Regions from separate parts of the Homo sapiens genome. Here region 2 is linked to region 1. Evidence: fine-mapped expression QTL. A gene starts in region 1. The other region holds a variant in brackets. All regions are shown on one strand. Distances are from middle to middle. Region 1 holds the start of EDAR (ectodysplasin A receptor). Region 2 has its middle 42 kb from the start of EDAR.

The links. PIP is the estimated chance that this variant, and not a neighbour inherited with it, causes the effect.
Region 2: its variant is fine-mapped to the expression of EDAR in whole blood (TOPMed, PIP 0.97).

Annotation. Positions count from the first base shown.
Region 1 is chr2:108,986,775-108,991,161 of GRCh38, forward strand. It overlaps EDAR (ectodysplasin A receptor), which reads right to left and starts at 2,446. Exons shown (of 12, transcript NM_022336.4): 1 at 2,186-2,446. It also overlaps a transcript of RANBP2 not described here. RefSeq lists an enhancer at 919-1,420.
Region 2 is chr2:109,028,981-109,033,367 of GRCh38, forward strand. It overlaps a transcript of RANBP2 not described here. Among named protein-coding and RNA genes, the nearest start is that of EDAR, 42 kb to the left of the region's middle. The variant G/A (reference allele first, on the strand shown) is at 2,379.

The DNA.
Region 1 (4,387 bases):
TGGGACTTAAAAAAAATTCCTTCCTGCAATATACGAATTCAGTAAGGACAGAATCGTAGGCATTGAGATGGAGGCGGCATACTCACAGGAAAGGCTGGCTGGGGCTTTTGTCCCCTAATTGATCTAATGTGCTAAGTGGGCTTAATGTAAGTTAATTAATGATACTATTGGTGGGTGGAATACCTAGGCAGAGCCTCAAACAGCATCAAAGGAACGAGCAGGCAGGTGTCATCCAGGATAATTGAGGCATGCAGGCAGTCACTAGGCAGGCTAGGAGGAGGGTGAGGGGAAACTGAGCCCAGCTGAGGGGCTGAGCCACTTAAGCAGCAAGGCTGTCTGCCAAACACCATCCTGTTTACAGCTCCTGTATTTGAATTTCAGATTTGCTTGAGTCTTTGAAGCTGGGTTCCTGGGCATTTCCTTGAGAATAAATTCTATTCTTTGGAAACCACAAAACGCACTCACTTGGACCCAGAAAGGAGCGTCAGGTAACCCAGCTTCCATCTGTGGGCCTATGAGACCTGAGGAACTTTGACTAGAAGAGGCTCCCCATTTAACAGAGGCAAGTAGGTTTTGCGCTCCGTGAGATGGGGTAAGACCAGGTCTGTCTGCACTCCGGAGCAATGTTGGGCTGCCGCCCAATGGCAGGCACTGGGCTAGGCAAGAGGGTACCATGATGCCTGAGAAACAAAGATGAGCCCCTGACATGTCTGTGCTTCACAAATGTGTATGCCCAACAAAATGAAAGTCCAGCTCACAAAAGCAAGAAACCAGGTAGTGGCCAGGGAGTGAAAATCAAGCATTTCAGGGAAAGTGTATTTACTTTTTCCTCCCAAAGACTGGTCCTTCCAAGATTATCCTCCAACTGTGCTGTCACAAATTAATCCTCCCACAGCACAGCCTGGCCCACTTAGGGATGGGGAGGGGTACAGTGGAGACCCCCGGCCAATCGCCACCAGGATCGCCAAACTTTCCCAGCCGTGAAGGGTACACGTGGACTGTCATCGGAACGAACGCTTATTTCCAAGCCTTGACCAGAGTCACTCTCTTTTTGGTGGCCTCTGTCAAAATGTATCTTTAAAGGTTTTAAGTGGCTATGACTTACAAATCTCAGAGTATTAAGCCAGGCAAGAAACATTCTCTATTTTAGATGCCTGGATCCCTTTTTTCCTTCAGTCTATTATGGCTCTTCACTTCTTTGTTACACTTTCACTCTTGCTTAGAAAGTGTCTCAAAAATGCCACTTGAGAGCCACAGAGCAGTGGCCTGGGGACTGGGGAAGAGGACGGTGGTGCTCCTGTCTCTCCGTACGTCTCCTCACATGCGTGTACCCCTGGCTGTGTGGGATTGCCCACTGACCGGCATCTGCCCTGCTTGTTGATTTTAACTGTCCCTCTTGTTGCTGACCCAGCACAACATGGGCAGGGAAACCCAGTGGGAACCTCGCCTGCTGACCTCCCTGCCCAGCCACCCGCTTCTCCCTGAGCTGACATCTCAAAGCTTGGCTGCTGCAGGAGGCTGGGAATCAGAGCCGACTGAATCAGAGCCGACTCCTGTCTAGGAGCCCAACCCACCCCACGGTCTGTCAGAGTGTTGAGAGGAACCTCTTGGCTGGAAATGAAAACCTCAATCATCACAAATAGGTACCCACTCCCCTCCTTCTCTCCCTCTCCCCGCTCCCCCGCCACCAACACAGAGGCCAGGATATGGGGGGTCTCAGACACGACTGGAAACCCCACTTGGAAGGTCTCTTAGGTCACAGCGGGTACGCAGAGTTGGAGGCAGGTACAGAGCCCAGCTAGAGTCCCTGCCGCGCCTGCCTTCCCCAGTGAGCCGGGCACAGGGGCAAACCTGAGAAACATACTTTTCACGCTCCCTGGAGGAACCCGTTGCTTCAGTAGCCCAAATCTTAAAGCCTGTGAAGCACACACAGAATTTGTCTCCCTAACCAAATGTGCAACCAACAGCAAAACAGGGTTTCTGATGTTTTTCTAAAACAAAGGAACAATCTCAGGTCTTAGAACTGGTAGCGCAGACATACTGCAATCGGTAAAGCTTGTTCAAACGCAACCCAAAAATGACATGCATTTCAAAAATGCACCCAGCCTCTCTCCCAGCCCATGACACCTCCGTCTCGGCCACAGCTGAAGAGTTTAGAAAACCAGAGGAAAGGACCAGGGCTTACCTGGCTTCTGTTGGAGGTCAGCTTCAGTCCCAGCAGAAGATGGGTCTATGAAGAAAGTCAGGTACCATCCAGTTCTGGGTGACAGGCTTCACAGGTGGCCACCGTGGCAGCCCTCTCAGAAGCAGGTACTCTATGTCCTTAGGGGCCAGCAGGGCTGCCTGGGACCTGGCACACCTCTCTGACACTAGCCCCGCTTCCTTTCCGTTTAAAGGGCTTCCCGGGAACTCTTCCTTGACCGCTCCCTGCCCTGTCTGCAAGTTTGGAAACTCAGTCCTTGCCGAGGGGCTTTCCCTCATTGCAAACTCACCTGCACCATCTAGAGGTCTCTCCCAGCACTGGAGAGGCTGGAGCGGGCACGTTCAGCCCTGCTGCCATAGGTCCCTGGCACACCTGGCTCTCCGGCCGTCTGCCCCTTAAGAGATCTGTTGGAATGCGTAAAAATCATGGATTTTTTTTTTTGCAGGGGTGGGGGCCTTGCTTCTATCAGAGCCTTTAGGCGTGGGAGTGCTAAAAAGCTAAACTAGCATTAAAATATCATTAATCAAAGCTTGTTCGTAGAAGGACCCCCCACTGAGATGGCTACAGGCATGGGTGCCACTGCACGGATTCAGCTTCCAACATGTCTGTTCACATTCTCACCCATCCCCCGCACATCCCTCAGGGTTTGAGCCACCAGGACTGCTCTTCCTTTCCTCTCTCTGGACACCTCACACCACCAGTGTATACCCATGTAACTTCAGATAACCATACACACCCCCCGTATAACTAGGTAATTAGGAAGCCATTTGAAACATCAACATTTTGAAAGGACATACCTTTCAGTATTGGGCAATTATTTCTCAAAAAGTAAATGATTGGGGGGGGGAAAACAGCCTTAAAATAATGTCATTCTCTTGTCATTTTCTCCCTCATTCACACCTACACAGATAAATACAGGAACAGAGCAGCTCCTCCAGGCTAGATTTCTGTGTTCTCCTTTTCCATCTTGTCCCCTCTGCCTTGGAAACCTACAAGGTAACTCACACATGAGAAAGTAAGAGCTTAAGAAAGAAACAGTCTGGGCTCCGTGGCTCACACCTGTAACCCCAGCACTTTGGAGGCTGAGGCGGGCAGATCACTTGAGGTCAGGAGTTTGGGATCAGCCTGGCCAACATGGTGAAACTCCGTCCCTACTAAAAATACAAAAATTAGGCCGGGCGCGGTGGCTCACGCCTGTAATCCCAGCACTTTGGGAGGCCGAGGCGGGTGGATCATGAGGTCAGGAGATCGAGACCATCCTGGCTAACAAGGTGAAACCCCGTCTCTACTAAAAATACAAAAAATTAGCCGGGCGTGGTGGCGGGCGCCTGTAGTCCCAGCTACTCGGGAGGCTGAGGCAGGAGAATGGCGTGAACCCGGGAAGCGGAGCTTGCAGTGAGCCGAGATTGCGCCACTGCAGTCCGCAGTCCGGCCTGGGTGACAGAGCGAGACTCCGTCTCAAAAAAAAAAAAAAAAAAAAATATACAAAAATTAGCCGGTGGTGGCATGTGTGGAGGCTAAAGCAGGAGAATTGTTCGAACCCAGGAGATGGAAGTTGCAGTGAGCCGAGATTGTGCCACTGCACTCCAGCCTGGGCAACAGAGCGAGAATCTGTCTCAAAACAGAAAAGAAAAGAAAAGAAAAAAGCAGACAGAAATGTATGGGGCTGGGGCAAGGACCTAGACTGTAAAGGACTAATTCTGCCTCCACAGAGATTAAGCTGAACCAGAGTTACTTAGCTGACTTGATCCTTGTGGATGATTAATCTAGATAATATAAGCTCCCAAACAAGAATTTTAACTTGAATTTTCAGGTTTGGTTGTCTACCCTGCTCATGCCGAGTTCAGACTGAGGGTCTGTGATAAATTAAAGTCACTGAAATTATTAAATTAGGAACCTGGGAAAATGAATGGGAGGTATTCTGGGCTAATCTGTTCTACTCCATATAATTTTTACTTTCTGGTGTGCTCACAGTGTGTTTGAGGTTTGGGATTATTTTAGGTGTAACTAAAACATTTTTTCTATTGGAAATTAAGTGGTGATTTAAAATTTACCAAAAGGAATGATACTGATATTTCCCAAAGAGAGAGAAAAAAGACACAAGAAAAAATTAAAATGGCACAAAATATGGATGCTGTAATAGAAGCCAAGGGAGTTTTTTCCTCTCTTTGAAAAAAATCCAAA
Region 2 (4,387 bases), 42 kb after region 1:
TGCCATATTGCCCAGGCTGGTCTCAAACTCCTGGGCTCAAGCAATCTTCCCACCTCAGCCTCCTAAAGTGCTGGGATTACAGGCGTGAGGCACTGTGCCCGGCCTATGTGATTGTTTATTTCTTTAGCCCTCACCTCATTCTAAACTACAAAAATAAATAAAATAAATAAATAAATAAATAAGGTTTAAGGCAAGATTATTGTTATTACTGTTAATAGGACACCTGGGCCCTTTCCTCCTTCATGTCAACACTGAGTCTATGGAGTCCCTCCCCATCCCAGCCCCCATTCACCCCCATGGCCGCAGCTGCTGGGTTCTGCCTTGGCCACTCCTCCAAGTTCCTTCCATAAAGCTAGTAAAGCATCCAGGAGAGGGATGATGAGGGACCATGTGTAAATGGGAGAAACTTCATTAGGGTAAGGAAGGCATGGGAATCTGGAGGTGGGAAACCATGATGTGGCTGACACTGATGCCTGAAGTTATTGAAGGGTGCCTCAGCCCTCCTGGGAAGCAGCAGCTCAGTGTGTGTCTGTCCGTTTCCAAGGGAAAACCTGGTCCTCTCAATGAGGGGAAAGAGGAGATTCTGCAGCATGTGTGTCCCTGCCGGGCAAACTTTACAGCATCAGGCTCCAAAAGTAGAGCAGGGTGACCCTGGGGAGCCCTCCCTCCTTCCTCGGCCTGGGATGCCTGCCTGCTGCCTGTGCTGTCTCCTCTGTTCCCCTCTCCTTTCCTGGCTGGAACAGCTGCAGGACAGGGCCCCCCGGCAGCCATCATCCAGCCTTTCATCTCTATCCTTGTCTCCAGCCTTGCCAGCAACTTAAGCCTAATCATTGCACAATGAAAGGCTGTTTCTCTCAAATGGATGCAGACATCCTTAGCCTTCAGGGGCAGCCTCTTATTTTGCTCACAGATAAGGCTGTTTATTTTAAAGAAATACTATACTAATAACCCTCTTGACTTGACAAGGATCCTGGTTGCTATCTCTGTATTGATGGATTGATTGATTCATTCATTCAGTAAGCATTTACTGAGTGCCAGTTCGAGTGTGTGGGTGAGTCTTAGATTTACTGCCTCCTTGACATCATTCTTTAGAAAGAATTCTTTGACTCTAACTTTTGTTTGCTACCTCAGAATGTTCTGCCTATGCAAAGAACAGTTTCAAATCAACCTGGATTCGAGAGCTCATGAAACTGATCCTCAGCCTTCATTTTCAGCCTTTTCCTCAATCCTCCCCTGCACAGCCAGCTGGCTCAGCACTCTCCCCAGCAGGCCATGCGCTCAAGTGCTTTACCTTCAACATTTTCCCACTGAAGACCCAGCCTTCTCCTCTAGCCAAATTATGGTATGCTACGTAAAATTCCTTAGAATTCTATTTTAAGTGAATTTCACGTAAGTAAAGCCCATTGTTAATGTCATTGGAAAGGTTATTTTTAAATGAAGAGGTGTGCCATACCCTGCCAAATGTGATAATGTGTATAGTAGCACCTAGCACAGTGCCTGGTGCATTCTGGATAGACAGTAAATATGACCTGAATGAATGAAAGAATGGGCCTCACTGTCTGATGGGATGAGGCTCCCTGAGAAGGAGTGGGGAGTGGTGGCCTCTTTGAGGATGACCAGCAGGCTGTTAAGCAGAAGGCTCCTTCTAGAATTGTACTTTCCTGAGTACCTAGGACCAGCTTGGGGCCCCTCAGGCATCTGAATTTTTGGACCACTTTGGTTTATATAACCCACTTCTTATCCAGGTTCTGTCTCTTGACAGTTTTTGTTGTTGTTGTTGTTGTTTGTTTGTTTTCTAGGTCTCACTATGTTGCCCAGGCTGGTCTTGAACTCCTGGGCTCAAGCAGTCCTTCTGCCTCGGCCTCCAGAGTAGCTGGGACCACAGGTGCACCACACCCGACTTTGGCAGTTTTTTAACATCTCCCAAGTCTTTATTTTCTTGGTAAAATGGTTTAATAATTGGTATATATACTCATAACTAGTACACAGACTAACACAGTGTGCATGTATACCACCATCAGTGTCATCTGCACCTTTTGTCTCACTGACTCATGGTAAGACACGGAGCGCTCCACGAGGGGACGCCATGTGTGGAGATGCTGGAGTCTAAGGGTATTGTGATTGGGCAATGGTAAGAACTCCGGGTCCCTAAGTCCATTCCTGCTGCTACAACAAAACACCTTAGAGAGTAATTTATAAATAGCCATTTCCTTTTCACCGTGCTGGAGGCTGGAAGTCCACCATCAAGGTGTCAGCAGTGAGGGGGGCCTGTTCCTCACAGATGGGGGCTTCTTGATGGGTGCTGGCTGACTCAGCACAGATGGGGGCTCTGATGTGGCAGGGGTGGGGTAGAGACGGGAACGCTCTGCAGAAGGAGC[G/A]GAAGGGAGGAAACAGCTTCCTCCAGCCTTCTTATAAGGTTATCAGCCCCGTTCCCCTTACGACGGAATCACTTCCCTGGAGGCCCCCTCTTACTACTGTTGCACCGGGGACTGGGCTTCAATCAGTAGCAGCAGGGGATGCGCGCTCAGACCCAGCAGTCGGCTCTGCCCGCCTCGCCGGGCTGCACCGAGTCCGCGGGTCTCTAGCGCACGGCCTGGCCCCACGTGCGGCGAGGAGGGCGCAGTGAAGTTCTGCTGTGTGCACCCCCTGCAGCTCGGCCGGGAAGCGCCCGCTGGAGGAACGGAGAGCGCCGCTTCAGCGTCGGCCACGTGGGCCGGGCTCTGCCGGTGGCAACCTGGACGCGCTGCGGGCGCCGGCGAGACCTGCGCCAACGCCTACCTCCGGGCCACAGGCGGGATAAAGCTGCCCCACTTTGCCCCCAGCGAAGAGAACCCTCCTTCCTCTAAGTATTTTCTTCAGCAACTAAGCTTTTCTGTTTGCTCAATTTCTTGTCCCGTGAGCGCTACCACCCACCCCCCGCCACCTTCTTCCCCTCCCCCCACATCCGTTCACTCTCTTTGACCTTTTGCCAAAACTCTGAACGCTCGCTGCCCTCCCTCCCATTTCCTCACCGCGTTTCAGGAGCTGTAAGTTCTTGGTGTTCAAACCCCCTACGGTTACGTAAACAGAACTCTGCAGTTATCTTCTTTCCCTTTCTTCGGAGCTTTGTTTTCAAGTTCATTAGAGACTTCCTGTGGGTGTAATTACCGCTCTGCAGTTTTGAGCGCTGCCCACCTTCCCCCTGTTTTGTTAAAAATGTCATAGATCTTTGGAGATTTCTTTCACTTCTAAAGTTATTACCTGTCTGCCTGCACATCAATCTTGTTGATTTTATTTCAGGGCATTTTCCGGAGTGAACTTCTGCATAGCGATTTTTTTTGTCCCTCCCCACCCCCTCTTTGTTTTGCAGGAAGGTGAAATAAGACAGAAGAAAAGGGTTAGAACTTTAGAACTCCAGGACCCAACCTCAGTCCTTTCAAGCACCGTCTGCAAACAGATGCTGTGCTAGACTCAGCACCCTGTCTGGTGAAACTGCTCCTTGGGGTGACATCGGTCGAATGTGTGAGAGGCTTCAGCGGATGCCCTGACTTTTACACCATGGAAGGGCTTTCTCCTCACTCTCCATTCTTCATCCCACTCCATCCATGCGCTTTCTCCCCTCCCCATGGGGTGGGGTGGGGGAGTCTTTCCTCCAGCTGAGAGCAGAGGCCTTGGCCAACTAGATGTGTCTTCTGGGATTTCACAGTCGGGCCACCTCTCACCTCTTGCACAGGCTGGTGGGTTAAATGAAACTCCTGTAGCAACTCACAGAGCATTTGATTTAAAGCTAAGATTTATAGGAACTCACAAGTCAGAATGGAACAATAATTTCCCTCCGGTTGCACTGCCACTACTGAGGAGCAATCGCCTAATTCCACACAGAGTTTGCTGATTCTGTGGGCCTAACAGAGAACTCCAGATGGGCAACTAGGAGCTAAGAAGTGCATCCTATGTCACCAGGAGCTAATTTTCCCTGGATTTTCAAAGAGGCCTCATATTTGACCCATGTCATGGCAGGGTGAAATATAAGTCCTTCCTGAACCCTTGGAAGCTGAACGTTGTGGACATCAGCCATGGGAAATACATTTCCTTTAAACTGATCACCAGGCCTTAGTATGATCCATGCCTTGAGTGGACAGAGACCTTTCATGTTTGGTCATTACTCAGCCAGACACTTCTCTGAGAGGTGATGACTTCCCTAGGAAGGAATAACAAAGCCCCTTTCAGGCTGTTGATGGGCCCTGTCCACTTTAATTTTGCATTCAGCCTCGCTCATTTCTGTGAGCTGAGATTTTGATTATTCTGATTTCCACGACTCCTTTTGTGAAACAGAGACACTGAGGTGAATGCACGGGCCCAGTCCCCTCCTTTTTGAGTGTGCCCTCGGAAGCAGAGGCAGGTGGTGTTG